Linked DNA regions of Homo sapiens: all the other regions are linked to region 3. The links come from fine-mapping of genetic effects on gene expression. A gene starts in region 3. Each other region holds a variant in brackets. All regions are shown on one strand. Distances are from middle to middle. Region 1 has its middle 58 kb from the start of PDHA1. Region 2 overlaps ADGRG2 (adhesion G protein-coupled receptor G2). Region 3 holds the start of PDHA1 (pyruvate dehydrogenase E1 subunit alpha 1).

What was found.
Region 1: its variant is fine-mapped to the expression of PDHA1 in skeletal muscle (GTEx, PIP 0.93).
Region 2: its variant is fine-mapped to the expression of PDHA1 in esophagus muscle (GTEx, PIP above 0.99).

Annotation. Positions count from the first base shown.
Region 1 is chrX:19,280,223-19,290,911 of GRCh38, forward strand. No RefSeq gene overlaps it. Among named protein-coding and RNA genes, the nearest start is that of PDHA1, 58 kb to the right of the region's middle. The variant G/A (reference allele first, on the strand shown) is at 5,729.
Region 2 is chrX:19,095,771-19,106,459 of GRCh38, forward strand. All of the region lies in intron 1 of ADGRG2 (adhesion G protein-coupled receptor G2), which reads right to left. Among named protein-coding and RNA genes, the nearest start is that of ADGRG2, 21 kb to the right of the region's middle. The variant C/A (reference allele first, on the strand shown) is at 6,759.
Region 3 is chrX:19,337,692-19,348,380 of GRCh38, forward strand. It overlaps PDHA1 (pyruvate dehydrogenase E1 subunit alpha 1), which reads left to right and starts at 6,236. Exons shown (of 11, transcript NM_000284.4): 1 at 6,236-6,403. The coding sequence starts at 6,347.

The DNA of each region.
Region 1 (10,689 bases), 57 kb before region 3:
CATATGTCCAAAGAAAAATGAAAAGAAATGACCACGCTTACAAAAGTAACAAAAATTCTCCATTACCTAGGAATGAAATTCTCAAGAAATATTAATATACAATATCTATGAAAGCAAAACTTTGAAGGACTCTATATATATGTGTGTGTGTGTGTGTGTGTGTGTGTGTATATATATATATCATGTTCTTCATGAAGAATTGCCTTCATAAAGATTTTTTAATAAGAAAAAGACAATTCTTCAAAAATGGGCAAAAGACCTGTAGCATTTCACAAGGTAAAATACAAATACCCAATACAAGTATGAAAAGATCCTCAATTTCATGGGTTATCAGAGAAATACAAATTAAAGCCAAAATGAAATACTATGTACCTGCAAGATTGGCAAAAATGACTGTCTGACAATATCATGTTCACAAAGATAAAGAATAAGGAGAACCCTCATAACCAAGGGTAGGAGTCTAAATTGCCAGAACTGTGGCACTTAGAAAAGTACAGTTTGTCATTGTCTTCTAAAGCTGGAAATTTATATTTTCTCCAGATTATAAACAAACCATTCAGAAACTTGCCCACTTATGTACCAAGACACAAGTAAAAGAATAGCAGCATTGTTTCTGATAGCCCCAGATTGGAAACAACCCAAATTTCCATCAACAATAAAATGATACATTAAAGTGGTGTATTCTTACAGTGGAATACTGCACAGCAGTAGAAATGAATGAACTAGAGCTACATGAACAACCCGATGAATGGCACAAAGCAATATTTTGCATTCTCACAAAAGAATATGTATAATATGTTTCCTTTTAGAGAATGTCAAACTAAATTACCACATAGATGATGAAATTATATGAAAGTGAGAAAGTGATTATAATAAAAGCCAGGTTCCTTTTAGGGCAAAGGAAAGGAAATAGTAAGGAAGACTTGGATGCTTAGACTGTCCTTTTGTCCCTTTTTTTTTTTTAACCCAAATGATATTTAGACAGGTGTCCACTTTATAATGTTTCATTATGCCTCCTATTTTTTTGTGTACTTTTTGCCAAGTTATTTCAGAATTTCAAAGGAAAAAACCCCCCTACAATAGTAAGATGTGCTAAGTATATAAAAAGATACCAAGAAAAAAGGAATGGCAGATGGTTCTTAAATATGAGACAAGATGCTCAGCCTCACTTGTAAAAAAATAGATGCAAATTAAAATTATATTCAGATACCACTTTTTGCTTATAAGATTGGCAAAAATCCATAGCACGCCTTGTTAGTGAGGCTGTGGGAAACAGACATCCTCATATATTAAATCTGCATGATCCCTGTGGAGGGTAATTTGGCAATATCTATTAAATTACAGATGCATATTACCATTTCATCCAGTAATCCAATTTTTGGGAATTTCATGTAAAGTACACCTCCTTATGTCTAAAATGATTTATGTACAGTATTATTCAAGCATTATTTGTAACAGCAAGTAAATGAAAACCACTCAAATGCCCATCAATTGAGAACTGGTTACATAAATTATGGTACAGCTGTACGAGGGAATCCATGCAGCTAGAGCAAGGCAATGAGGAGGGTCTGTATGTACTGACATGTAAAACTCTCTAGGATGCATTATCAAACAAAGGGAAAGATGCAGAACATTGTATATAGAGGCTACCTTTGTTTGTACGTGTGTAACAACTCTGGAGGGATATACATAACAGTGAAAGATGATAACTATAGGAGGGCAGGGAGTGGAAAATAAGTGAGAGATGGAAGTGGGAAGGAGACTTCTGCTATATAACCTTTATATATAATACACATATATAATATATACATACAAAATATGTAAATTATATAATTTTATATATAAATATAAAACTATATAATTATGTATATTCTATATAAAATTATATATTATATGATAGATTATATATTTATAATATATTAAATTACATATTTTATATAGTGTATTTAAATGTTTGAAACAAGTAGATATAATATTAATTCAAAAAGTTAATTTTTTTTTTTTTTGAGACAGAGTCTCGCTCTGTCTCCCAGGCTAGAGTGCAGTGGCACTATCTCAGCTCATTGTAACCTCTGCCTCCTGGGTTCAAGTGATTCTTGTGCCTCAGCCTCCTGAGTAGCTGGGATTACAGGCATGTGCTACCATGCCCAGCTAATAAAAAACTTAAATTCTCAAAGGAAAAAATATATATACACAAAAATGTTTACCGATGGAACCATAAGTCTGTTGGTGTTTGGGGATGGAGAAGAGACAAATGACTTCACACTCAGGTGAACAGGACCAAGTCTGTGAAAATAAAATGACACAACTCTAATAACCAAAAAGTCACTGGAAGGTTCTTGGATAACACTGAAATACCATTAAGAGCCCTTGATACCTTGTGGCAAAGGGGGAATCAACAGTCATTGATTGATAAAAGTTACTAGGAAAATTGTTTCCTTTTTATACCCCATTAAAGTTGAGTCTGCTCACTAAACCTTTGCAATTGTGAAGCGTATCAAAGGATACAGAGTTGTGTCTGCATTTCCTATTTAGTTAAACTTGAAGTTTCATTATTCTTTAATTGAATGATACATCGCCAGAAGTTAAGTAATTTCTCTTAGATATCAGTAGAAAGCTTATTTACTGATAGACATTAGCATCTTAGTAACATTTATGATTGATGAGTCAATTCCACTAACATTTCCTTGCTTGGAAAATTCTATGATCTGGTCCAAGAAATTTCTCAATCTCTACCTCTTTTAATTCTATTATATGTAACATGTCAGGCAATTTTCTTGTGTAGACATTTTTCATTTTAAAACTGCATCATGTCGTCTTTTAAAAATTTTCAGTGACAATCATGAAACCAAATTTAAGTTAAAATTCAACCATGTCTGATATTACAAATGCAAATACCACCAACATAATGTTTAAATGGTCAGATCATTTCTATACATGGCATAGACAATCACAATCACATCACAACTTGCTGCTTTGCCTAAAGGCTGGCAAATTTTCTTAAACATGTATTGCCATTTGGGAATTGTTAAAATATTTTAATGCCTCATATTATTGAGAAGATATGTTCAAGACTTGTTAAAGTGAATTTACGTAATTTTCATCAGTACCTTTAGGATATAGTTTAGGGAATAGGTAGTAAATTTCAAAGTTTGTAGGTGAATTGACTGAATAACATCATTTAAGATTGTGTTTAGCTGCATATGGCCTAACTGTGGTGATATGTCCAAATAGGGGTATATTTCTCACATCGGTGGAATTCAGAGGTTGGCAATCTGATCTGCAAGCAATGTCCTAGGATCCTTCCACTTTGAACTCCACCATCCTTAGAGTGTGGTTTTCCATACTGTGCTTGTTACCCAGTGAATATGTGATGGTGACTCCATCACCAGCCTTATGTCTGCATTCCAGCAAGAAAGCATCAACAAGACAGGGAGGTGGGGGTAGCAGCCATATCAGAATATCAGTCACATTCCCAGAAACCCCTTGTTGACATCTGTTCAGGTCCCATCAGCTACAATGTGTCACCTGGCCTTACTTCACTGCAAGGGAATCTGGAAGGGTATTTTTAGCTAGGCACGCTGCCTTCCAGAACAGAAGTCTGTGTCATCAAAGAGAAAATGGGCATTGAGTATAGGTATCTAGCAGTATCTTCCCTGTCACCAAGAGGTTAAGACAAGTTAAGGACTTGTCTCCTTACTGTCAGTTAAATGCCCCACGATTCAGAGGTGGGGGCGCTGAGGAGAAAAATGAAAAAGAGCATATTCACGCAACAATATATTTCATCCAAAAATCCCACTGTTTTTAGATACAAAATTAGCTCCTGTGTGGTTATTAAAGAAGATTTAGGTTATGTAATCCAGAATCCTGGTGTAACCCTGGACCACATGTGATTGTTAGGATCACCATGAACTAGACCTTGCTCCACATGGCTATTCTTGTTTCCAGTCACATTGTCTTCTCACGTTCACCACAGAATGGATGGCAAGACAGAGCTGGTCATTCGCTGCCCCACAAGAATATTTCTATAAAGGTTTCTAGTGGAGGCCATGAACAATCATCCTTGGAAGAGAGTCTTGACTGGAAATAGCTGTCATTGGGTATACCTTGTAGAGAATCAAGGACCCAGAATGGGTCTTTTGGTCCTGTAACTAAAGAACACAGACCTTAGCATGGCCTGTATCAGATCAACTGAGTTCAGTTTTCTGGACTCCTCAAGATTATCATTCAAAAAAATGATTTTATATGTGATTTACAATGATTAGACCAAGAAAGCAGACTGAACCCACATGCCAGCTTTCCCTTCTACCCTCAAAGCTGTTGAAATGACAGAAAAGATATACACACACAGTTTTGAAAATAATTAATGCATGTCAGTGCTGGAAAATAGGAATCTCTGAAAGAGGGAAAATGAGATTGAATAGAAAGCAAGAAAAAATTAGAGATTTTAGAAACTAAAATTTTGATTGTTGACATTTTCTGCCGTGCAAGTCCTAGTTATTTATAAGAAGTTTTAAGAGAGGGGCCGGGCGCGGTGGCTCACACCTGTAATCCCAGCACTTTGGGAGGCTGAGGTGGGTGGATCACCTGAGGTCGGGAGTTCGAGACCCCAGCCTGGCCAACGTGGTGAAAGCCCGTCTTACTAGAAATACAAAAATTAGCTGGGCGTGGTGATGCATGCCTGTAATCCCAGCTACTTGGGTTGCTGAGGCAGGAGAATCGCTTGAACCGGGGAGGCAGAGGTTGCAGTGAGCCAAGATTATGCCACCGCACTCCAGCCTGGGTGACAGAGTGAGACTCTGTCTCAAAAAAATAAAACCCCAAAACAAAACAAAAACAAGTTTTAAGAGAGGAAATAAAGTGTCTTAAGCCCTGTTTTCTAAGCAGTTAGCACCTTCCAAATTAGTAGTTTAAAAATCATGGAGTATAGCTCTTTAAAGATGAAGATAAATCATAGTAGGGTAGAATCACTACCAAAGTTTTGGATTTGGAAAGGACTTTGGCCATTCTGAAAAAATGAGGCAAGTCTAACCAATTTGCTAGCCCAGCACAAAAGAGGATGTTGCTTCTATAGTGTGATATGGTTTGGCTCTGTGTCCCCACCCAAATCTCATCTCAAATTGTAATCCCCATGTGTCAAGGGAGGGACCTGGTGGGAGGTGATTGGATCATGGGGCAGATTCCCCCATGATGTTCTTAGGATAGTGAGGGAATTCTCACAAGATCTCATGGTTTTAAAAGTGGCAGTTTTTCCTGCACCCTCTCGCTCTTCTGCTGCCCTGTAAGATGTGCCTTGCTTCCTCTTCGCCTTCTGCCATGATTATAAGTTTCCTGAGGCCTCGTCAGTCATTCAGAACTGTGAGTCAATTAAACCTCTTTTTCTTTATAAGTTACGCAGTCTCAGGTAATCTTTATAGCAGCATGAGAATGGACTAATACATAGTGCCTGAATGATTTGCTAGCAATAAAAAAAATCCATCATATTTCATGTGGTCCAAACAAGGCTTAAGTTGTGACAGGTGCCAAAACTACACTGGAAGCCTTGACAGAACCAGCTGACTCTTCTATACAGTTTCCAGCCTCTAGGCTTTTCAAGTCTTAGCTGGAAATACTAGAAACAAAGTCTTTCCCAGTCTTTTGAAGTTTGTCTAGCAAAATCACTTTGTGATTTTGTGCTTAAAAAAAAAAAGAAGAAGCATGAATCTGATTCTGTAAAACAAATTAGTGT[G/A]TAATGAAATGATTTAAAATTTACTACATTCATTATCTGCTCATAGTATCTGGTGTGATTACATTAAAACTCCATTAGAGAAATATGGAATGGTCCAGATTCAGAATTATCTGATTTCTTAATGAGGAACAATAGGGCATTTAGTTGGTTAAGAAACAACAGTTCCTTTGAATTACAAATTAACTCAATATTAGTGTTGTGGTTTTAATGCATTTAATATTTCATCACAGTAGGAAGTCTACTAGGCTTGAGACAGGACATCTCAATTCTAATTCTAGGTCTGTTACCACATGCCTCATGACTTTGAACAAAGCAGTTAACCTCTCTGAGCTTTGGTTTCCTCATCTGGAATATGAAAGGATTGGACTAAAATATTCTCCAAGGTTTTCTTCCTAACTCTGAAATACGGTGGTTCCATTTCTTTTTTTCCCCCCAGGGCCCTTTGATTCCCACACCTCCTTCCTCTATTCCAGGCTTCTAGGTTACTCTTGCCTCTACTTCCCCCACTGCCCAAGGTTATTCTTTGTGACATCTGCCATCCTAGGCAGTAGCACCTATCCCAGGCTTCTTCCTCCTGGACACCAATGAAAACTTCCTCTCATGTGTCCCATTTCCTCAGAGCCATTCTACACGTGGATTTCCTTCTCTGAATAACAGTTCCTTCACCTAAGGGAGTGAAGTGACGCTGAGGATAGGAGCTACTGTGGCTAGGGCAGGGTTGGGGAAAGGTCAAGTTCTGCTGTCTGTTCCATGCTGCTGGGGCCTGTTGCGTGAGAATCGAGGCTTGCGTACTTGCCTTTAATGTGGGTCTGTAAGGAGGGTCCTGGGGGGTTGAGAGACTGAGGGAGGGAGATGCCCACCTGGTTTTGAATAAAAGCAAAGGGAAAGCCTTTGCCCAACATGCATAAACGTCAGCCTATTCAGGCTGGGCATGGTGGCTCACGCCTGTAATCCCAGCACTTTGGGGGGCTGAAGTGGGCAGATCACTTGAGGTCAGGAGTTCGAGAGCGGCCTGGACAATGTGGTGAAACCCCGTCTCTACTAAAAATATGAAAATTAGCCAGGCAGGTTGGCACGCGCCTGTAATCCTAGCCACTCAGGAGGCTGAGGCACGAAAATCACTTGAACCTGGGAGGCGGAGATTGCAGAGGTTGCAGTGAGCCAACATGGCGCCACTGCACTCCAGCCTGGGTGACAGTGCGAGACCCTGTCTCAAAAAAAAAAAAAGTCTATTCAGTCATTTAAATTTTAATTTAAACTTACGCAAATGAGGTAGAGTACATGTAATTGCATCTGTGTACATAATAACCATTATGTACAGTGTTGTAATAATTTATATCTATACTTAAACATAAGTGGTTTTGTTTTGATTTTTGCCTATGGGGATCTCACCCCAAACCCTTAGATGTTTGTCTAATTCTCTCTCGGGTTTTTTCTGCCCATCATGGGCTTTGAAGGAAGTTTGCTGGGCAGTAGAGACACCAAGGCACTAAGAGTAAAAATTTCTTCATGGCCGGGTGCGGTGGCTCACACCTGTAATCCCAGCACTTTGGGAGGCCGAGGGAGGCAGATCACGAGGTCAAGAGATCAAGACCATCCTGGTCAACATGGTGAAACCCCGTCTCTACTAAAAAATACAAAAATTAGCTGGGTGTGGTGGCACGTGCCTGTAGTCCCAGCTACTTGGGAGGCCGAGGTAGGAGAATCGCTTGAACCTGGGGGGCGGAGGTTGCAGTAAGCCCAGATCGCACCACTGCATTCCAGCCTGGCAACAGAGCAAGACTCCATCTAAAAAAAAAAAAAAAATTAATTAATTCACAATCCCCTATATTGCCTGTCCTCCCAATTCTATGAGTCAGTTGGCATATTTATCTTATAACCCTGCATGTCACAATACCCACCCTGCCTGTGACCCAAACACAAGGTCACAAAGTGCCTGCGTGACATTTACAAGCTCTCCTGAACCCCAAATCTTCTCTCCAAAAACCAAGTTCCCCCGAGCATCTCCCTTCTGGATGGATTGGCATGGTTGTAGAGTATATTTATGCACATGTGTGTTTACCCTGCAGGCTAAGTGATTGCAGCTTCTCTTTTAACACGCTTACATGAGAAATGTCTCCTGCATATAGCCTGAAACTTTATTTTTCACTTTAACCAAAACATTATCTCTCACCTATCAATATCTTGGCCCACGTGGTGTTGTGCCACGGCAGAAATACTGAGTATGAGAAAACCAAAAGGCAAGGAAATTCTGTGTCGCCTCCCTTGGTATTCCACCTCCCCACCCCCACCCTCGTGTCTAGACATTGCAGCAGGCTTAACAGTTACCACCCTTTTTTTTTTTCCACATTTCATTAATTGGACAAGTCAAACAATCGCTAATCTGGCAATTCTGTGCAAGTTAAAACACTGGAACATGTTACCCCGCATTGCCTGCCAAATCACACTAAAATTCGGATCCACGAAGGTGCTGAAAGACTTTTTCAAAAGTTTGTCCTGCCTGGCTTCCTGCTTTTTCGGCCGACTTTGAAAAGGGATCAGAGGAAGCTGTTCAAGAAGCAAATCAACAACAACAGCATAAACAGCAAAACAGCATAAAAAATAACACTTCTTTGTTATTTTTCACAATTAACTGAAATCCAGAGTTTGGTGGCAGGGGAGAAAAAAAGGGAGTGGGACAGAGCGTCCCCACACCCTGAGATAATTGCATCAGGGTGGAAAAATGACCACCACACCCAGGCGGTCAGATTTCTGGGGTCACTTAATCACGCTCTGCACACCTGTGCTCAGAAGGCAGTGCAGCTGCAGACACAAATACTGTTAGATGAAGAAGCCAATGATCCTGTTCCTTGCTAGATTTAGCTGCTTCCAAATGTCCAAGATGAGCTCAAACAATCTTTGAAAAGTGAAGTGAAGCAAAAGCACAAAAATGGTCTCTGCAGTGTGCTCTGCCAGAGTCAGTCTCGGGGCCAAAACTTCTCTTCCACACTGCTTCAACCTGTGCTCGGCCTTCCACTAGCCCACAGGACCTCAGTTTCCCATGGCCATGATGTTCTTCAGATGCTCTGTGCATGGGGCGAGCTGTATAAATGAGGGTCTCCAGCAGACCCCAGAAGTACCGTCAGATTGAGTCCCTCTAAATATCATCAACTCTGTCTGCACCTCTTCCTCCTGGGTTTCCTTGCTTATAGTATTCCCAGTAAATGTTACTAAGAGGTGAGAATGTGAACACTTGCAGGAAGCAGAACAGCAATCATTCTTTCATCACAGATTTCCATGGAAATCCAGGAAATGAAACAGAAAGGAAGTTGATCAAAGAACTGCTTTAGGTTTGTAGTCTGATTTTCATGAAAGTTCGTTCAGGAGACCATACTAGACAATCTCAAAGACCAATTTAGGCCTGAAATGCATCTTCTTTTTTTTTTCCCTACACATTAGGATTTGGGTCTGGATTGGGAACAGGATGTAATATACCAATACAGGCCATGAGCCTGGCTGCTGAACTTCCTGAGTTCAAAAGACGTGGTTGGTTGCCACATCCCGCCATGGATTTGGTCTATTTTATAGCTAGAGGCAAAGATCCAGTGTTTGAGCAGAAATCCTGGGATGGTTCTGAGATTGCTGTTGATGATCCCAAACCTACCCTGGAAGTCTTCAGAAGGACAAATCTATCCATCTCTCTAGGGCACTTAGAAGAGGACCTGGGGTTGGCCTGGAGCCTCTGAAAGCAATTACCAGCAAAGCCGATTCCCTCGTGGGAATCCACTTCAGCTTTTACACTCATCTAGAGCTAGCACAGATGATAAAGCAGGTTTGCCGTCAGTGCCCTGTATCCCCTGTTAGAGCCCACAGACCCCTTATTGTTCTTTCCCTTTCTTCCTCCCAGGTACTTAATGCACTCATGAGGCCCCTGCATGGTCCAGCGTATTCCACCAGCTAGATGAACCCTGGTGCCTCCCAGCCACTGTCACACCTCACTTGGATCCTGCAGCAGTGTCTGGTCTTGGACCTCCTACAATCTGTTTTCTATCCTAGAGCACAAATCTTATCAGGTTATAGTCTTTCCTAAAACCCTTCCTTGGCTTTCCATTAGCATTAGGTTGGACGGCACGCTTCTTTCCATGGTGGGCTTGTCATTTAACATCTGGCCTGTGCTGCTCTCTCCAGCCTCACCTCTTGCTACTTTCCTACGCACATGCAATGCTCTCTCCAGCCTCACCTCTTGCTACTTTCCTACGCACATGCAATGCTCTCTGCAGAATTTTCTTCAGTTCCTTTACTGCACCATGCCTTCTGGCCTTCATATCTGCTATTCCCTCTCCCAGAATACTCTTTCCTTCCTTCTTTGCCCAGGTCATCATTGTCATGGGGTCACTCCTCATCTTTCTCCACCATGAAGCCCCCTAATTTCCCTAGGCTGGTTTCTGTTCTCTTACAGCCACCTGTACGTCTCCAGTCACACCTCCTTGTCACTGCTTCGTTGGTTGCCTGTCATCCCTGACTAGACAGAAGGCTCCACGGATGCAGGAACTTTACCTGTTTTGTTTGCCATCAATCCGTCCAGGCACCTGGATGTATTCTTACTGACATGCTTAGCAGATTTAGCAGAAACTCACCGTCACCCTTGGCCTGATGGATCTTGAAAAATAACAATACTATCTAATATTTCCACTTCGGGGTCTACAACATTACTTCCTTTGAGACATCATGTTGAGAGGTAGGCAGATGAGCTCCACTTTAATATACCAGTGCCCTGGGGCTCAGGGCGAAAGCCTCAAGCGTCATTGTCTATTCACTCAGTGGCTACTTCTGTCTACAATACAAAAGGCCTCATGTTAGTTTCTAAGGATACAAAGATGAAAAAAGAATGATCTTTGTACCTGAGAATCTCAAAGTCTAGACGGAAACAAAGTGTGAGAAGTTGTAATGGAGGTATGAACAAAATGTGGTGGAAACAGAAA
Region 2 (10,689 bases), 240 kb before region 3:
TGGGAGGCCAAGGTGGGAGGATCACTCGAGTCCAGGAGTTGGAGTCCAGCCTGGGCAACATAGTGAGACCCTCCCCCATCTCAATAAAAAATACAGAAATTAGCTGGGTGTGGGGGCATGTGCCAGTAGCCCCAGCTACTTGGGAGGCTGAGATGGGAGGATTGCTTGAGTCCAGGAGGTTGAGGCTGCAGTGAACAAAGACTGTGCCACTGCACTCCAGCCTGGGCAACAGAGGGAGCCCTTGTCTCAAAAAATTAAATTAAAAAAATTTTTAAAGTGCAGTGTACATATAAAATGGAATATTTTAATCATCTCCCAGGTTCTCATTGGAAAGGCAGGGTTAAAAGGAAATGGACCAGGCCAGGTGCGGTGGCTCACGCCTGTAATCCCAACACTTTGGGAGGCTGAGTCAGGCGGATCACCTGAGGTCAGGAGTTTGAGACCAGCCTGGCCAACATGGTGAAACCCTGTCTCTACCAAAAATAAAAAAATTAGCCAGGCATGGTAGCATGTGCCTGTAATCCCAGGTACTTGAGAGGCTGAGGCAGGGAGAATTGCTTGAACCCAGGAGGTGGAGGCTGCAGTGAGCCAAGATTGCGCCACTGTACTCCAGCCTGGGTGACAGAGCGAGACTCTATCTAAAAAAAAAAAAAAAAAAAATCAGTATTGCAGTTAGCAATAGGTTGAAAACTACCATTTGATAGAAAAATGATTCTGCCTGGATAAAAATGTAATGTGCTCATGCAAGTAAGAACAAGTGTACAATATCTCAAAAGATCTTTTAAAACTCCCTTGCCATAAATATTACAAGCTGCTTTTGGTTATCCTATAGTACTAATGCCACATTATTGACAACATTGTCAAAGCCTTTTCACTATTACAGAAAAAAGGGAGGTGTAGGGAGGTGGTGAGGTATTTTCAGTGAGTCATGATGATAACAGCCAGTGTTTAATTGTAGCCTATCACAAGTCATGGGATAAAGTAGTTGCTGATATTTACTGCCTCCATACCTGGGATTCTTTACCCATCAAATGGGGATAAACTTCTTATTTATGTCCTAAAATTCTTATGAGTAATGAGTCAGTCAGTACAGGGAAAGTGCTTAGCAGACTTTGGCTTAGAGCACATGCTCAAAAATATTAGCTGTGAGTGTTAGTGCCATCGTTAACTGCTTCCGGGCACCAGGCACTCTGCAAATTGCTCCACATACATCTCTGTGGCTGACACTTCATGTGCTTTTCTAGAAGAGAAGAGGTCTGGCATGGGCCTGCTGCCCTTCCTGCATGTTTTCCTCCTTGGCCATGCCACTCCACCCAGCCCCTCTCTGCCTCCCCTCCTTATGCTCTTCTTTCCGCTCCCACTTGATCACAGCTGTCCCAGGAATGGAGCTAATATCACACCTGACCTCTTCGTGTGAAGGTCCTATTGAGCTTCCTCTCTCAAAAGGTATCTCTTCTTTGGCCAGGCGTTGTGGCTTACGCCTGTAATCTCAGCACTTTGGGAGGCCAAGGCGGGTGGATCACTTGAGGTCAGGAGTTCGAGACCAGCCTGGCCAACATGGCAAAACCCCATCTCTACTAAAATACAAAAATTAGCCAGGCGTGGTAGCAGGTGCCTGTAATCCCAGCTACTGGGGAGGCTGAGGCAGGAGAATCGCTTCAATCCGGGAGGTGGAGGTTGAAGTGAACCGAGATAGCGCCACTGCACTTTAGCCTGAGCAACAGGGTGAGACTCCGTCTCAAAAAAAACAAAGGCATCTGTTCTTTAAACCAACTCGGAGGACTGAATTAATGACTTATCCTTTGTTACAGGAATCCGGGGCCTGGGGGAGAAAGTGTGAATGCTATTTGAGGGACCAAGACCACATTTTGGAGGTTCATTCTCTCGCAGCTGAGGACCTTATACTGGGTCATCTCCTCCCCACCCCGGCCCCGGTGGCAGGACACCCTCACTGCATCGAGGGTGAGCGTACTCTGCTGTGCTCAGGCACCTTCCCATTCAACAAATATTTATTAAGTAAATACCATGTGCTAGGCACTACGGGAGGTGCTAGGAGTGCAGTGGTGAACAAGACACACACAACTGTGCCCTTTTGGGTTGTACGTGCCAGTGCGGCATTCAAACAAATAAAAACGCAAATGGATCAATCTGTGAAACACTGACAGTTTTAAAGAGAGCTATAAAGCAAACACATAAGAAGATGAATTATATCAATGATGCAAAAAGCAACTTGCTCAATATTACAAAGAAAGTTAGCAATTCAAAGGAATGTCACACATGATAATTTCTATTAAGATGCTCATTTTGGCAGGCGCCAGGCCAATGCTTTGCCACCGTGCCAGAAAGCTAACTGCAAGTGAGGGAACATGCCTTTTCACTCAATTTCTCTTCTATGTTTTTTTTTTCCTTTACTTCTAGAGATGGGACTAGGCTAGACCAGTGTGTTTATATTTCCTCCTAGGCCAGCTTCAGATGAAAATGTGTAGGAAAAATCTCCTTTTAAAGGAATCAAAATAATACTTAGAGAACATAGTAAACTGTCATTTGCTTGTAAGCTGTTTAGCTAAAGTTATATGGTTAGATTAGAAAATGTACTCCCTCTAGAGGTGGGGTAAAATTGCTGTATTCTTGATACACAGCAAAATGCCAACTGGAGGGGGGACCATGGGTGGGCTGAATTTTTTACTGGGTTTTTCTGTAATTTCTGAAAATGTAATGATAAAGATACATTTTTTTAAAACATAAAAATAAATATTCTCACAGGCATAGCAGATTTTGTAGGATTTTTTTTTTATCCAAGTAACAGCAAAACAGAACCACATCAGTAGTAGCTCAGTAAAACCTGTATGTTAGTAATAACTATAAAGCAAACACATAAAGCAGAGAAGTGGATATGAAGTGTGTTGGAGGTGGGGGAGGTAGCAATTTTAGAGAGGTGTCCTGTGACACCATCATGAGAAGATGACATCTGAGCAAAGCTGCTAAGGGAGGTCAGGGAGTGAGCCAGAAGGCACTGCCACACAGAAGATGAATCCTCAATCACCTATTAACCCAGATAAGCAAAATTGCTCCAGACAGAAATCAGTTCAGACTTAATGGGACAAAGCAATGGGTCAGAAGAAAATTAAGTGAGGCCAGGTACAGTAGCTCATGCCTATAATCCCAGCACTTTGGGAGGCCAAGGCAGGTAGATCACTTGAGGTCAGGAGTTCGAGACCAGCCTGGCTAACATGGTGAAACCCCATCTCTACTAAAATACAAAAATTAGCCAGGCGTGGTAGCAGGCGCCTGTAATCCCAGCTTCTCTGGAGGGTAAGGCAGGAGAACTGCTTGAACCCAGGAGGTGGAGGTTGCAGTGAGCTGAGATCGCGCCACTGCACTCCAGCCTGGGCGATAGAGCGAGACTCCATCTAAAAAAGTTAAAAAAAAAAAAATTAAGTGATGGGCTGGCATGGCCTTGACAAGAAACAACAGCCAAAGTCTAGCAAATGCTTCCTACAGCATGGATTGAACTGCTTTATTTGTATTAACTTGCTTTATTTGTATTAACTCACTTAATCTCTGCAACGACCCTGGTTAGGGCATGCACATAATTTAATGTCCAAATGGGGGTATGTGAGAGTAAAATGGGGCACTATTGATTAATGTGGAAAAAACAGGCATAAATCAGAGCTGCCTTGGCAAAACCAAGATACAGCACCACCTGACCTAGAAGGCATACAATTATGACTGCTTTACAGACAAGGAAACTGAGGCAGGGCACAGAGAGGTTAAATAACTTGCCTGATGTCACAAAGGTAAGTGGCAGAACAAGCATTTGAACTTGGGCTGCTGAGCTTCTGAGCCCACATTCGTGACACCTACACGTGATTGCCTATCTGTGTTTCATGTGCTTAGAAGCTCGTCACGCTAAAAACCTGGGTTGTATTTGTCACTGGAAAGTAGAAAACGCACCAGCTTTTAGAGTTGAACACCAGCATTAGGCCAGGCACAGTGGCTGATGCCTGTAATCCCAACATTTTGGGAGCCTGAGCTGAAAGGATCCCTTGAACCCAGGGATTTGAGACCAGCCTGGGCAACATAGAGAAACCCCATCTCTACAAAAAATTCAAAAATTAGCTGGGCATGGTTGTGTATGCCTGTGGTTCCAGCTACTTGGGAGGCTGAGGTGGGAGGATCACTTGAGCCCAGGAGGTTGAGGCTGCAGTGAGCCATGATCATGCCACTGCATCCAGCCTGGACAACAGAGCAAGACCCTGTCTCAAAAAAACACCAAAAAACACGACCACTTTACAAGGTCAGCAACCCTGGACAACCATAATAACCCCTTCAAGCCTCAGTTGAGTCACCTGTAAAACAAAGCTACTGAGACCTACCTCATAACAAACACTACTTCAACACTCAGATGACATCGTGTTCCTGACAACGCTTTAGAAGCTGAAAAGCACAACATGGGTAGAATCCTCAAAAGTTATCATAGGTAAAAATCTGCATTTCCTCTGCAAAGGGTCAAATAGTAAATATTTTCTGTAAAAGGCCAAATATGAACTATTTTAGGCTTTGCAGCCAAAATGGTCTCCATTGCAATGACTGAACTCTGCTGTTGCAATGCAAAAGCAGCCATGGAAAACATGTAAGTGAATGAGCGTGACTCTGTTCCAATAAACCTTCATTTACAGAAACAGATGGAGGGCCTTGGGCCATGGTTTGCCAACCCCTGGCCTAGAAAAATGCTATATAAAATTGCAACCCCTCACGGCTTCCTGTGCCTCTTTCCCAAGATTCATTTTCCTCCACAGACACCACCTAACACCATCTAACTGACCGTGTATTTTACTCAAATACCGTCTGCTTCACTCACTGGAAGATAAGCTTCTTTGCCGAAGGCAGAAGTTTTGTCTGCTTGGTTTACTGTTGAGTCCCCAGTGCCTGCAAAAGTGCCTGGCACATACTAGGGATGTTATAAACATATGTGAAAAGAATGCATGGCTGAATGAATGGAGAGGTTTTGAAAGAGTTGGACATACTATTGGGAAAGGAAGGCAAATCTATGCCAAGTAAAAAAGGAAACAGAAAGATAACGACATCTGAAAACGGGAAGAAAAGCGATGGCAAATGAAAGCAAACTCAGCTTTGCGATTCCTCGCGGGCAAAGGGTAAAAGGATTATTTGCAAAACCAATTTTGTGAGTTGTGAACATATGGAAGAACTAGAGCTTTATAAAACAATTTCCAAAGTTAAGTGGTTAAAATCTAAAGGAATTATTGGTTGGATTAAGATTTAGTTATGAGAATAGCTTGAGGTGTGTTTCAAATCAACTAATCATGAGATTGTGTGTGTGTGTGTGTGTGTGTGTGTGTGTGTGTGTGTGTGTAATTCCTGCTCTTCCCCCACCCTGGCAACTGTGAGTTCAGTTGTTCTCTGGGAGTGGTTTGTGGATAAAGCAAAGGAAGAAAAATGAGCTAGAGCTACATGTAGCCAAGAGAATCAATCTCACAAAAATAGTATTAAATGAGATGAAAGTTGCAAAATGTGAAAGTAAAAAACACACCAATCTTATAAAGCTTAAAAGGCATGCGAGTAGCATTCTCTCTTGCTTAAGGACATATTCCTATGTAGGAAAATATAAAGAAATGTATTAGAAGGATAGCCAGGCACGGTGGCTCACGCCTGTAATCCCAGCACTTTGGGAGGCCGAGGTGGGCGAATCACTTGAGTCTAGGAGTTCGAGACCAGTCTGGGCAACATGGTGAAACTCTTTCTCTACAAAAAATACAAAAATTAGCCGACCCTAGTGGTGTGCACCTGTAGTCTCAGCTACTTGGGAGGCTGAGATGGGAGGATCATTTGAGCCTAGGAGGCCAAGGCTGCAGTGAGCTGGGATGGAGCTACTGCACTCCAGCCTGGGCCATAGAGTGAGACGCAATCTCAAAAAAAAAAAGAAATGTATGAGAAAGATAAACAACAGTTTCAGGATAGTGCTTACCTTTATGCACTTTTGAAAACTGATGCAGGGCCAAAGTTAAGCACCTCCAGCTGTTACCCCATTAATGGTACAGGTTCAAAGGGGATGGAATTCCACATGCAGCACATACTGAACCAGCAGTGACCCACCCTCAACAGGTCCCCAAGAGCAAAGGCCATACAGGAGTCAGACCCACGTGCCTGATTTCCTGACCCAGTGTTCTGATTGCCTGAGCTAATTATCCACAAGCAGCTGTTCCCAGCAATAACAAGCCATAAGAAGTGGCTCGCTTTACTTCAGGTACCATTTGGATGTTAGTAGGGGAGGAAGATGAAGTATTGCGGTGAAAATATTGCCGGGTGTGGTGGCTCACACCTGTAATCCCAGCACTTTGGGAGGCCAAGGCAGGCAGATCACTTGAGCCCAGGAGTTCAAGACCAAAGTGCTGGGATTACAGGTGTGAGCCACCACGCCCGGCCTGGACTCCCTCTTTAAAAGGCAATGTCTTTCACATCACTCATAGATGCAAAAAAGCAAGATGAAGGACTCATTTCTCTTATTTTAAGGGGTATTTTGCAGGAACTGATATGAACATAACTCTGAGGACTAGGACAGGCCTTGGCAAAGTTAACAAGCCCACCTCACTTGAAGAAAATCAATTTCCTCTTTAGTACTCTTTGTGTCTTCTAGGTGGGGGCCATTCCCAACTTGTAGGTGCCCAGTGACCTCATACTTTTTCACTGGCTCTCAGGAGAAGGCCTCGCATGGAGGCCCATCGACCAGGTTCTGTGCT[C/A]ATTTAAATTATAACACTTTAAACCAAGGAAATGAATCTCTAATTGTGGAATTTCAGATTTCAGCCAGATCAACAGATGAGATACTGGTGGGGGTGGGGAGATGGGGGTGGAGTCATGCACAGTTATTGCTGTGGACTTGTGTGTCCCTCCTGCCAAATTCATATTTTGAAGCCCTAACCCCCAGGGTAACCTGTCTCTCCCTCTCCCTCTCCCTCCCCGCTTCCCCCACCTCTCTCTGCCAACTGAGGACACAGTGAGAAGGCAGCTGTCTATAAACCCAGAAGAGGGAACTCACCAGAACCTGACCATGCCAGCATCTTGATCTTGGACTTCTCGGCCTCCAGAATTAAGAGAAATAAATTTCTGTTGTTTAGACCACTCAATCTATGGTATTTTGTTCTGGCAGCCCAAGTTGACTAAGAAAGTTACAGGGTAGTGTCAGAGGCATTTGAGCCAGAGTGACTCCATCTTGAATAGGGACTGGGTAAAATAAGGCTGAGACCTGTTGGGCTGCATTCACAGGAGGTTAGGCATTCTTAGTCACAGGATGAGACAGGAGGTCGGCACAAGATACAGGTCACAAAGACCCTGCTGATAAAACAGGATGCGGTAAAGAGGCCAGCCAAAATGCACCAAAAACCAAGATGACGACAAAAATGACCTCTGGTTGTCCTCACTGCTCATTATACGCTAATTATAATGCATTAGCATGCTAAAAACACTCCCACCAGCGCCATGACGGTTTACAAATGCCATGGCAACATCAGGAAGTTACCCTTTACAGTGTAAAAAGGGGAGGAACTCTCAGTTCCGGGAATTCCCTGCCCCATCCCAGAAAACTCACGAATAATCCACCTCTTGTTTAGCATATAATCAAGAAATAACTCTAAGTATTCTCAGTCGAGCAGCCCATGCCACTGCTCTGCCTACGGAGCAAACATTCTTTATTCCTTTACTTTCTTAATAAACTTGATTTCACTTTACTCTATGGACTTGCTCCTAATTCTTTCTTGTATGAGGTCCAAGAACCCTCTTTTGGGGTCTGGATCGGGACCTCTTTTAGTAACAGTAGCAGTCACCTAGCCATCCACCCTTATTGTTTTAATAGATGTTTTAACATTAAAGCTAGCCCTGTTGATACCACGTGTACTCTCAAAATACCAAATCCAAAGGACTAAGTGTCTAATTAGGACCCCCAAGATGCCCAAACAGAGAAACAGGAGTCTGGCCTGGGGGCAGCACAGCCTGGCAGAGGTATGCAAAACTGTGAGACATCCAGGACAGTGTGCCCAGTGAGGCCACCCTCCCAAACATCTCTGCCTGCTGTGGGTTCCAAAGATGAGACAAACCATAGAATGGGGAATTTCAAATACAAGGTCTTGAGGGGAAAAGGCTGGGTCCTATCACACGTCTGAACATATAGAGGGGCCCAGGCAGCCCTAAAATCCCCTAAAATGCACTAAGAGGCATAGATTGTGCCAAGGTTCAGATCCACTTCAGTCTGGGGAAGAAGGCAGGAGGAGGAGAAAGCTGAGGACATGGCTAAGAGGAGCAGTGACCATCGATGCAAAGCTTCGGAAACGGATGTAGGTAGGCCCTTGAAACTGAGTGTCAGGGGCTCTGTTCTGTAAAGGTCTGAGAAGGACTCCTCATCCCAAGAGGCTATGCAGAGAACCCACCACAGAGAAACTCAGTGAGGGAGGCCTGTGGAAGGGAGTTGGCTGCAGCCAGGATGTGGTTTGTAGGAGCCCCCGGGATGTGATCAAGCTTCTGAGGCAGAACTCAGAGATACACCCTCTGGGTACAGGTCAAAAAGACCTGAACTAGCTTGACTGGGGTGTCCAGAAAATCAACTCTGTTGACCAGATCCCAAAACAGCCCGGGAACAGAGAAGCATTCTCTCCATTATCAGGCTTATTTCCAGCCATCTGACTGTTTGGTGTCACGCAGACAAAATATCTAGATACTGGTGAGATGCCCCTCAGAAGAAACCCCATGGGGCTCCCCCTTTTTTTATAATAGGATTTTATTAAAATTAACAAAAGGAATTCCTGACTGTTGACCAGTTTTGCCTTAGTTGGGTTCCTTCAGAAGGTAACTCTGCTGGGTGTGGTGGCTCATGCCTGTAATCCCAACATTTTGGGAGACCAAGGTGGGTGGATCACTTGAGTGAGGCCAGGAGTTGAAGACCAGCCTGGTCAACATGGTGAAACCCCGTCTCTACTAAAAATACAAAAATTAGCTGGGGGTGGTGGCGGGTGCCTGTAGTCCCAGCTACTTGGGAGGCTGAGGGAGCAGAATCGCTTGAACCCGAGAGGTGGAGGTTGCAGTGAGCCAAGATCACACCACTGCACTCTCGTCTAGGTGATAGAGCGAGACTCTGTCTCAAAAAAAAAAAAAAAAAAAAAAAAAGTAACTCCAAGGCTGGGCGTGGTGGCTCATGCCTGTAATCCCAGCACATTAGGAGGCCGAAGTAGGCAGATTGCTTGAGGCCAGGAGTTCGAGACCAGCCTGGCCAACATAGTGAAACCCCGTCTCTACTAAAAATACAAAAATTATGTGTTTTGTATTTCTTCTTCCTTCTTTCTTTTTCTGCTGCTGCTGCTTCTTCGAGATGGAGTCTTCCCATATTGCCTAGGCTGGTCTTGAACTCCTGGGCTCAAGCAATCCTTCTGCCTCAGCCTGAGTGTTATTCTCTTTGACTCATCCATGAAAGTGGATCCAATGTGTCTATGTATATTTTTTAAATTAAACTTTTATTGTAGTACAAATTATACACAAGGCCATCAGCAGTAGAAAGGATAAACCATGGTAGTCATGCAGTGGAATATTATTTGGCAGTGACAATCATCCAACTATAATTAGTTGCTATTTAGGCCATGTTAAATAGGCCTTTGCAGGGACATGGATGAAGCTGGAAACCATCATTCTCAGCAAACTAACACAAGAACAGAAAACCAAACACCACATGTTCTCACTCATAAGTGGGAGTTGAACAATGAGAACACATGGACACAGGGAGGGGAACATCACACACGGGGGCCTGTAGGGGGATGGGCGGCTAGGGGAGGAAAAGCACTAGAAGAAATACCTAATGTAGGTGATGAGTTGATGGGTGCAGCAAACCACCACGGCACGTGTATACCTATGTAACAAACCTGCACGTTCTGCACATGTACCCCAGAACTTAAAGTATAATAAAAAAAATTTTTTTAAATACAAAAATTAGCTGAAATACCCCGTCTCTACTAAAAATACAAAAATTAGCATGGTGGCGTGCACCTGTAATTCCAGCTACTGGGTTGGGAGAATCACTTGAACCTGGGAGGCGGAGGTTGCAGTGAGCCAAGATCGCACCACTGCACTCCAGTCTAAGCGACAGAGCGAGACTCTGTCTCAAAAAAAAAAAAAAAAAAAAAAAGAAGAAGAAGAAGAAGGTAACTCTTTGGCACATATTCGAGATAAGTAGTTTATCTGGGCTGTGACCCCAGGAAACACAGATAGAATGGACACGTGAGTTGGGGCAGGAAGGCAGCCAATAGATGGCGTTATCAAGCCAGTCACCACTGGGGGCAATGGGAGTTTAGTCCTTCTGGGGAATTCTGGGAGCCAGTGTAGAACACCGGTCTGAATTATCCCACTTGAGGGTATGGATCCACTGACTTGCATCAGGCATTGGTTGAAGGCTGCTCCTGGGGTGGGGTGGGAGCTGTTAATTCCCTGGCACTTCCAACCTGCAGCATGGATGTGTAAAGAGGGCCCCCACAGAGAAATGTGCAGCTCGTGGCTGGAAGGTGACTGGTGTGTACTATAATGGTGGGGCCAGGGATGTTGAAACAGACACCTAGTTGCTCTGGAATGAATGAGGAAGTGTGCGATAGTGAAGCCAGGAGAAAAAAGAGTGGCTTAATGCCTGCCCCACCCCACTCC
Region 3 (10,689 bases):
CGTTTGGGGATCAGCCACAGAAAATGATTGATAGTAACTTCAGGCCAGACTCATCAGTGTGTGCCTAAAATCTTCCCTATTAAAATATGTATTTTTCCACATATCTCCATTGGATAATAGAAAGACATGATGGGCCGAGTGCAGTGGATCATGCCTTTGATTTCAGCACTTTGTGAGGTTGAGGTGGGAGGATCGCTTGAGCCCAGGAGTTCGAGACTTGCCTGGGCAACATAGCGAGACCCTGTCTCTATTTTAAAAATCATATAGAAAGATATGCTCATACTCACTGTGGTTCACCTATCTTAGATTCAGGAACCCCGTGCTCTCCTGAACACACTATGGCACCTCCTTCCATTAATTTCCTTTAGGATCCTGTCATGAGAGGGCACAGCTCATCTTCCATATTTACAAAATGCAAAGCTGACATGAACATCCTTCTCTGGCTTCCCATTATTCTTAGGAAAAGTGTCTAAATCTTTAATGAGGTCTAACAGGACCAGGACAATCTATTGCCAACCTCGTGCTCAGCGCTCAGACCACAGCTAGAAGGTCTCCTCCTCAGTGCTGAGGTCTGAATGTGCCCCCTAAAATTCATCTACTGAAACTTAACCTCCAATGTGAGGGTATCAGGAAGCGGGGCCTTTGGGAGGTGATTAGATGATGAGGATGGAGCTCTGCCCCACTCCCCCAGGCCCCTTTGAATGGAATTAGCACCCTGATGGAAGAGGTTGAAGGGAACACCCCAGGCAATTTTTTGCCCTTCCACTCTTCTGCCATGTGAGGACTCAGCCAGAAGGCCCTCACCAGACACTGAATGCCCTGACCGTGGACTTCCCAACAGCCAGAACCATAATAAATCAATGTCTGGGTTTGTTTGTTTGGTTGGTTTTTATTGTTGTTGTTGTTTGTTGTTTTTTTTTTTTGAGACAGGGTCTTGCTTTGCCACACAGGCTGGAGTGCAGTGACACAATCGTGGCTCACTGCAGCTTCGACCTCCCGGGTTCAAGCCATCCTCCCATCTCAGCCTCCCAAGTAGCTGGGACTACAGGCACCTGCCACTATGCCCAGATAATTTTTGTCTTTTTTGTAGAGATGGGGTTTCACCACGTTTGCTAGGTTGGTCTCAAATTCCTGGGCTCAAGCAATCCACCTGCCTCAGCCTCGGAAAGTGCTAAGATTACAGGTATGAGCCATCAAGCCCAATCAGTGTTTGTTGTTTATAAGTTACCCAGTCTCACGTATTTTGTTAAAGCCGCCCAAACATTACAAATCCCCCAACAGCTTGATCTAGTACTTCCTCAGGGGTTACAACACAGGGATATTAAAATTATATGGTTCCTTTTTTATTTACTGCTGGAAATTATTCTATAAAGAACTATTCCTCATCAACTGTTTGTTGACATTGAAATTCAGTCTATGTAAGAAAGACAGGATAAATCCTTGGTTCTTTCCCTTTGCCAGATTTCAGAATAATTACTATTGGGCTGGTCTTTGCTTCTAGGTATTTCCAGTGGAGAGAGTTAAGATACACACACACATACACACACACACACACACACACACACATCGTTTTTGCTTTGAGACACAGTCTCATTCTGTTGCTCAGGCTAGAGTGCACTGGCACGATGATGGCTCACTGCAGCCTCCACTTCCCAGGCACAGGTGATCCTCCTACCTTGGCCTCCCTAGTAGCTAGGACTGCTGGTATGCGCCACCATGGCCGGCTAATTTTTTATATCGTGTAGAGACAGGGTCTTACCATGTTGCCCAGGCTGGTCTTGAACTCCTGAGCTCAAGTGATCTGCCCACCTTGGCCTCCTAAAGTACTGGGATTACAAGTGTGAGCTACCGAGCCTAGCCAAGATGTATGTATGTGTGTGTGTGTGTGTGTGTGTGTGTATCTTGAGGGGGGGAAATAATCATGAGTTTATACTGATATTTCCAATTCAAATTCAGGACCTCTTGGCTTTGACCTGTTGAATTTTACATTTGTGTCTCTGTTTTTTATACTGAAAATCTTGGTTCCCAATGGCATTAACATAATTATATATTTACTTTATCAGTGTGGGTATGTGCAGTCTTAAATAATAACACCTGACAAATGAGAACAATTTAAGATTTTTTTCTGTAGAGATGGGGTCTCCCTATGTTGCCTAGGCTGGTCTCAAACTCCCGGGTTCAAATGATCCTCCCACCTCAGCCTCCCAAAGTGCTAGGATTACAGGTGTGAGCCTCGCCTTAAGATTTTTTTTTCCAGTTCCTTTTGTCTTTAGGCTATACCCCACCAGGCATATGCAGTCACATTGCTGTGGTGTGAAATAACTTGAAATCATTCTCTGCGGGGTTATGCTGACAACTTGGTATGTTATTAAATTGGTTTGTTATATTTCATTTCCATTGTTATGTCATTGTGTTTTATGGTCGTGTAAAAACATTTATATGGTTCCAAAGTTAAAATGACCCCTAGCCATAATCCTTTCACCAGCTGCTGCTTAGTACCTCAAAGACATTTGCAAAGATTTGTTGACTTTTATGACACATGTATATGATTGTCCTACTCTAATTCATCTGCTGGGGGATGGGTGTTTCTTACTGGAAAACCGGAGACATGTCAAGGAGCATGATTTGCCTTAAAGCTCAGCTTGATCGAATACTTGTAGGGTGATTCGCTAACGAAAGGTAAAAAGGCATATTTCAGGGTCTCTAATCAAAATTGCCCTGCTTCACCCAGATACGTTTTTTTTGTTTTGTTTTTTAGAGAGATGGGGTCTCGCCCTGTCACCCAGGCCGCCATGCAGCGATGCCGCCATAGCTTACTGCAGCCTCAAACTCCTAGGCTCAAGCAATCCTCCCTCGTCAGCATCCCTAGTAGCTGGGACTACAGGCATGCAACACCATACCAGACTAATTATTTTATTTTTTGTACAGACGAGTATCACTTTGTGGCCCAGGCTGGCCTCAAACTCCTGGCCTCAAGTGATCCTCCTGCCTTGGTCTCCCAAAGTGCTGGGATTACAATTTCCCCCAAGATTAACGAGCCCTCCTTTCTTAAGACTTTCTCTTCCCGCCTTTTGCAAATCTTTCTTTCTCTCCGGCCTCCTCTCCTGATACAAGAGTCTTTTGTGAATGTTCTAGCGCGTTACTATAGCCTATAGTTATTATAGCCTATAGTTAATGACTATAACATTACTATAACGTTACTATAGCCTATAGTTAATGACTATTAACCACAATCATCACCTGTCACCACTTGACACAGCATCTCACAGTGTCCCTCACCTTCAAAGTTGCTTCCAACTCTGCTTTCAAATATCTGAAAACAGCTGGGCGCGGTGGCTCACACCTGTAATCCCAGCACTTTGGGAGGCCAAGGTGGGCAGATCACCTGAGGTCAGGAGTTTGAGACCAGCCTGGCCAACATGGTGAAACCCCGTCTCTACTAAAAAAATACAAAATTAGTCGGGCATGGTGGTGCTCGCCCGTTTTCCCAGCTACTCGGGAGGCTGAATGAGGAGTATCACTTGAACCTGGGAGTCAGATGTTGCAGTGAGCCAAGATGTCACCACTGTACTCCATCCTGGGCAACAGAGTGAGAATCTGTCTCAAAAAAAAAAAAAAAAAAAAGAGGCCGGGCGCAGTGTCTCATGCCTATAATCCCAGCACTTTGGGAGGCTGAGACGGGCGGATCACGAGGTCAGGAGATCAAGACCATACTGTCTAACATGGTGAAACCCTGTCTCTACGAAAAATACAAAAAAAATTAACCGGGCGTGGTGGCGGGCACCTGTAGTCCCAGCTACTCGGGAGGCTGAGGCAGGAGAATGGCGTGAACCTGGGAGGCGGAGCTTGCAGTGAGTTGAAATTGCACCACTACACTCCAGCCTGGGCGACAGAGCGAGACTCTGTCTCAAAAAAATAAATAAATAAAATATATATATATACACGTATGTGTGTATATATATGTATATATATGAAGAACAAGAAGTGCAGAGAAAATATCCTAGTCATTGAAAAATTGGTTACTTTGTTTCTGCACTGCAAAGTTACTTTAAACTTTGTAATGAATCTAGTGGAGAGATCATTTGAGATGAGGCAAATGTCCTGTTTCTCATCATACATTTACCCACTAATTTTAGCCTGTATTGATGATAATTCTCACCTGCAACAGTTACTGTGGTCTTTGCCAAATGGTGATTTTCTTTTTCTATTTTCATCATTCCTTCTATATTAATTAATTGGAATTCTACTGTAAGGAAAAGTTGTTCCTTCTAACCCATTGATTTGTTCAATCATGTATTTAAGTAGGACCTATATTTTACTTGTTCCTTGCTATATCTTCAGTGTGTAGTACAGTGTCTGACACAAAATCGGTGCTCAATAATAGGTGTTGGATGAATGAGCAAATGAATGAATGAATTCATATTCATATGGCCTACAGAGTTCCCGTACATGCACAACCAATATCACCACCCCGTGGAGATGACTCCCAAATTAATATTTTTAGCAAATGTTCCAGACTTACAACTCCAACTTCCCGGGGGACATCTTCAGATAGCTGTGCCACTGCCACCACCAGGTCAACATGTCCCAAACCATTCAGACCAGCTTTTTCTCCTGAGCTGGACATCTGGCCTCCAACCTTTTCATTCTCTTTTACCTTTCATATTCTATCAGCAGCAGCAGCTGCTGAAATCATACCATGCAAGTTTCTCACGTCCATCTCTGCCTTTTAATGGCGCCCTCTCACTCCTTTAAGAAGTTTTCTTCCACTGCAACACGATCTCTCAGTCCAGAGTCTGGCCCAGTGCCCAAATTATTTCTCTAGCTATGCTGAGAGCTGGTCATGCTTTGAACTTCTGCTTTGAATACTTTCAGTGACACTGGGAGAGAATTATCTCATTGGACCATTGTCATTGTTAGAAAATTCATTGTTATGCTGAAATGAAATGATTTTATTCACACACACACACACACACACACAAAATAGCTCTTCCTCCTGGAACATGACTGGCCTGAAAATGTGTGAAGACATATCCAATCCTCTCTGGTTTTACTGTTCATCCAATTTTCTGTTCTCCTCCTGGCAGGAGGATTATATTTCACCTTGTGGAACTCAGACATGGTCGGGTAACTAGCTCTGGTCCGTGAAAATTGAGAGGAAGTGACATGTGTCACTTCTGGGCAGAAGCTTTGAGAGCCGGTTTAAATGATCCCTTTTCTCTTCATCCATGAGACAAGCTAAGTTCCAGAGAGAGGGTGCCACGCTGTGAGGGACCTGTGTTACGAGTACGATGGCTCGCGTCACTTCAAATTCTTGAAATCACTGAAATTTGGAGGTCAGTTGTTACATCATAACCCAGCCAATTCTAGTTAGCCTGTTTTCTTCCTAACTTCTTTAATCGTTCTTCATAAGTCACAATCGCAGCCCCTCACCGTTCTGACCACTGTCCCCTGGATTCCACTCAGTTTACTCATTATCCCCCTTAAAATGTGGAGCCCAAATCTGAACCCGGAACCCCAGGTGCAATCCCACTAGGACACAACACAATGGGTTCCTGAGCCCTTTGATCCTCTGAATAGAGCCCCTTGTTGCTTTGGTGTTTTGTCTCTGTGTGTGCTTTTATCATCGGCTGAGCCACGCTGTTAACTCGCAGTGAGCCTGTGAACCAATAACTAGAGAAAAAAGATTTTTCCCATTGTCCTCTCGACATATATTGGGAAACAAATTTTTTGATCCGCGTTCAAGTAGACAGGGCAGAACTGTCCAACTGCTACGTGATCTTTTAAAGACAAAGTTAGTGGCAGACCATTTACAGAAACCAGATGTTCTGTCTTTTGGCTCTGAGCATGCTGCTAATCTTCATCATCTAGTGTACTGAACGAGATGTACTGAACGAGGGCTGCAGAGCTGCAGCACCGGCAGGAGTAGGCGCTCGGTAGGACGGGGCCTGCACAACCTCCCCGGTAGTCAGCAGAGCGGAATCTAGGAAGGCTCCTTTCCCGCGGCGCCCTGGAGGCGGGGGCCCCACCTTCCCACGCAGGCGCTATCAAGCCCCGCCTCCTCACCCGCCCGCGGCGTGGCGTCGGAAAGAGCCCTCAGCCCCTCCCTCTCTGGCGCTGATACCCAATGGGCAGCCTCAGGCCTTTAGCGGGGGCGGGGCACCCCCTGGACGCCGTTCTGGTTGGCCCGCGGCCCGGCGCAGCGCATGACGTTATTACGACTCTGTCACGCCGCGGTGCGACTGAGGCGTGGCGTCTGCTGGGGCACCTGAAGGAGACTTGGGGGCACCCGCGTCGTGCCTCCTGGGTTGTGAGGAGTCGCCGCTGCCGCCACTGCCTGTGCTTCATGAGGAAGATGCTCGCCGCCGTCTCCCGCGTGCTGTCTGGCGCTTCTCAGAAGCCGGTGAGACCTCCCGGGCGGGCCGGGATGGGGCGCGAGTGGGGCTGAGGCGGGGCCGGAGGGCAGGGCGGGCCAGGCCGGGCCACCCAGAGCGGGGTGGAAGGCGCCAGGGGAGCCGGGGAGCCTTTACTTCGCCTCCGCGCCCTGCATTCCGTTCCTGGCCTCGGGAGAAGCGGCACGGACCGGGATCACGCCAAGGTCCGTGTGAACTTCCCCCTTCTCGACACCCACCTCCCGCCCCCGGGCCCAGCTGTGCGCCAGGCGAAGTCGGTGTGCTCAAGAGGTGCCTGTTGGGTTACAGGACACGGAAAGGGTGGCCTCGGCCTCCTTCGAGTCTCCAATTGACCCCACTCATTTCGGATCTTCTAACTTAATTTCTCTTGACCGAGAGGCTTTGTAATAGCGTAGAATCTGGAGACAGGGTGGCTTCGTTCAAACAGCACCCTCACCATTGACTAGCCCTGTGACCTTGAGCAAGTTTTTAAACGTCCCGGGGACCCGGTTTCCTAAAATGTTTGCTCGAAGTGGAGTTAATCTCTAAATGGAGATAAGAGTTATCTCTGAAATGTTATCAGTTAACTCTAAAATGGAGATAATAAGAGTCCCCACCTCTTGGGGTTGTCTTGAGGATTCAACGAGTGACACGTGTGGAAACGATTCCAAATAGCACCTGGCACATAATCGATAACATGTGTGTTGAATAGTGTTATTTATTGAGTCTCCAGTTCGGTATACATTTCTTGAACACCTGTGCTCAGTTCTGAGGCGGGTTCACAGAAGGTCAGCCTCTTCAGAAACAAACTTCCTCCTCTTCCCTCTCCCTCAACATCTGAGCTTTTCTTGGCAGTGAGTTCAGGAGCGCCGAAGCAGAACTCAGAGGACGCTGCCCTCCCCTCCCCTTACCTACACATTCTTAGGGTACAAGTAGCTAAAGCAAAGAGCAACGATGCTTGAGGGGTGGGGGGTAGAGTTTAGCACTATTTCATGGCCTCAGCATTTAGAGGTGCCTAACACCTGAGCTAGCATTCTGACCCCCCTAGGCACAGTGAGGTCGTGTTAATTGGTGTAACTGCAGGCCTCGGGATTCTGGTATTTCCCCCAGGACTTGATACCGCTCTACTTAGTACAGGCAGAGATTGTCAAAAGGTAAGAGGTATGCCCCTCTAGGAATCCTGTTGCCTAAAATAATGACAAAACTGCCGGGTGCGGTGGCTCAGGCCTGTAATCCCAGCATTTTGGGAGGCTGAGGCAGGTGGATCACCTGAGGTCAGAAGTTCGAGATCAGCCTGGCCAACATGGTGAAACCCCGTCTCTACTAAAAATACAAAATTAGCCGGTCGTGGTGGCGGGCTCCTGTAATCCCAGCTACTCGGGAGGCTGAGGCGGGAGAATAGCCTGAACCCGGGAGGCGGAGTTTGCAGTGAGCGGAGATCGTGCCATTGCACTACGGCCTGGGCGACAAGAGCAAGACTCCGTATTTTAAAAAAAAAAAAAAAAAAAAAAAAAAAAAAGCGTTCCCTTTAGGGATATCTGTGGGTAGAGGGCTGTACCGGTAGTTACGGGCTCAGAAACATCCTTCCTTTAGGCACCTGATGTAGGTTTTCTTCTTCTTCTGCAAGTCAGGTTCATTGTTTCCTGTATCAGTTTGCAGGGTCCCCCCCCCCCCGCCACCTTACAGTAGGAAGAAAATTGAGTTCCAGATATGAAGTCACCTTTGAAAGTGCCCAGGTATCTTTCCACTTGGTGGTGTAAACTCTTCAGATAATTAGAAGTTTTCTGTGTCACTCAACTTGTCATGGACTAATTAGGAACCATTCCTGAAGCTTTTAAGGATAGAACTAAAAGTTTCACTTTTATTTTTTTAAAGGGTGGAATAATAAACTAACGTGTTGACTCTTTGTATTTTGTAATTCTTCATACTTATGGATGTCTTTTTACTTAACTATAAGTAACAAAATAGATCAACGTTTTAGTTTTTTATATTATACATGTAAAAAGACATTTTGCATATAAGCCTTTCACAAAAATCTTGACAGTAAACAATAAGCAGTGGCTCACCCAAATTAGGCAGACTTACTGCACTAGACTCCTACCATCTGTGTGATACTCCATGAAGGGAGGGAGAAGGGGAGGGAGAAGGGTAGGCAGCTGGTCTGATGGCTGTGACACAAGATAATCCCCTTAACCTCCCAAGACGCTGTGTGTTTTTTCCTTTTTTATTCTCCCTGGTTTACTTTCGTTTTGTTTGAGACAGGGTCTCTGTGTCACCCAGGCTGGAGTGCAGTAGCAGGACAGCTCACTGCAGCCTTAGCCTGCTGGGCTCAAGCGATCCTCCTGCCTTAGCCTCCTGAGTAGCTGGGAACACAGGCATGTGCCACCACCACACCCAGCCAATTAAAAAAATTTTTTTTTTACTAGAGACATGGTCTTGCTACGTTGCCCAGTCTGGTCTCCATCTCCAGGCTCAAGCAGTCCTCCCACCTCGGCCTCCCAAAGTGCTGGGATTACTCTCACTCTCTTAAAACCAGGCAGGTAGGGAGATTTATCTCAGGCTTAAAGATTGCCATTGTCTCATCAAAGAGTGTTTGGTGTGAAACTTTGAAATGAATATCAAGATTGTGTTTTTATTTTTGAATAAGGTTTATAGTTTTCATAGTTCTTATTTCATGGAAGAAGATTGAATGCATTTAAAATGTTATTTTATTGTTTGCATTTCTGTATGGCTCCTTTTGTGAGATCTTTACTAGCAATGTTTTGGCTTTATAAGTGGTAGGTAAGAGTTTTAATTTACACTGTTAGAATCTGGAATTTTTGAAACGTTTTTCCTCTTTCACATGAATGGTTCCTATGTATTTAGGAAGTTAAAGTTTTACTTTTTTTTAATTAATTTTTTTTTTTAGGCTGGAATGCAGTGGCACAGTCATAGCTCACTGTAGCCTCAGGTGTGTGCCACCATACCTGACTAATTTTTTAATATTTATTTTTGTAGAGATGAGAGTCTCATGTTGCCCAGGCTGGCTTTGAACTCCTGGCTTCAAGTGGTCCTCCCACCCTGGCCTCCCAAAGTGCTGGGGATTATAGGTGTGAGCCATCATGCCCGGCCTAGTTTTTATTTTTTAAAATTTGAGTGGGTTGTTCGTGGTCTCTGTCAGAGAGGAATCCCATTTAACAGAGAATCTTTTTATGGCTCTCCAGAGAAAATGAATGGTAAACTTATCTTTTCAACAAGCTCTCACTCAGAAATGATACACACACACTTCTGATAGGACTTTTAGCTTCTTTAACTTTGTTCCTTTCACTCATATCAGTGGTTCTTATTTTTGAGATACACAGTAATGAAGCCATGGGAGAAAGTATCTAAGTAGCTTTCTGGCAGTCCTAATCTTTGCAGGCGCAAGATTACAGGCGCATGCCACAGCACTGGGCCCCTTCTTGCTCTTTATTGTATAGCATTATCCTGCCTCATTGTTTCAACTCTAGGATTGAGAAAGAAGTTACCTTTTCTCTGTTACTGTCGCCTGGCTGGTTTGGACTCCTGCCTTCCAAAAACTGCAGTTTCTGTAGTTGTATTTGGAAATTTATTTCACAATACAATAAATTTCTGGCCCCACAAAATATTTATTAACTGCCAAGAATAACACATCTGTTTGATTGCTAAATATAACCATTGATTTGCTGTTTCACCTTCTCTCAGCTTTACTTCTTCCCAAATTCCTAAATTTCCTTCACTTTTTCTGAGATACATTAGTGGACTGTCTCTGCCTGTAAGTTAACTGAAACACTGATTCCTAGTATTTCAGTTGTTTTCCTCCAGCACTGTCATTGTCTGTGTTTGTTGGCTTTGTCCAATAATGGTCTATTGAGGGGTGAAGATATACGTAATTAGCTTTCTGCCTATTGGCTTGTACACTCCAGGGTATACTTGGCAGATCAGTCTTAACTCTTCTCACCAAGATCAGTCCAGTGCTGGATTAGGTAAGGTATGAACACATCAGATGTGCTTTTTATGGAGAAATCATGTTGGTTTACACGTCAGTGTGTGAGAATGTGGCAGAAGGGAGCTAAAATAGTATGATAATACTACTGGATAAATTTTGTGGTCTAACCTAAACCTTAGCCATTACATAGAATACTTTTGCTGTGAGCAGGTTTGCTCAGTTGTAAAACTGGAAAGGAATCATTTCTCACCCCCCGCCTCCAAGCTTTTTACCTCCAAACAGTGACAGCCACCCAAACATCAAGAGAACAGTGTTTCAGAGAACATTTCTACTGGGGCTTCAGGAGGAGCC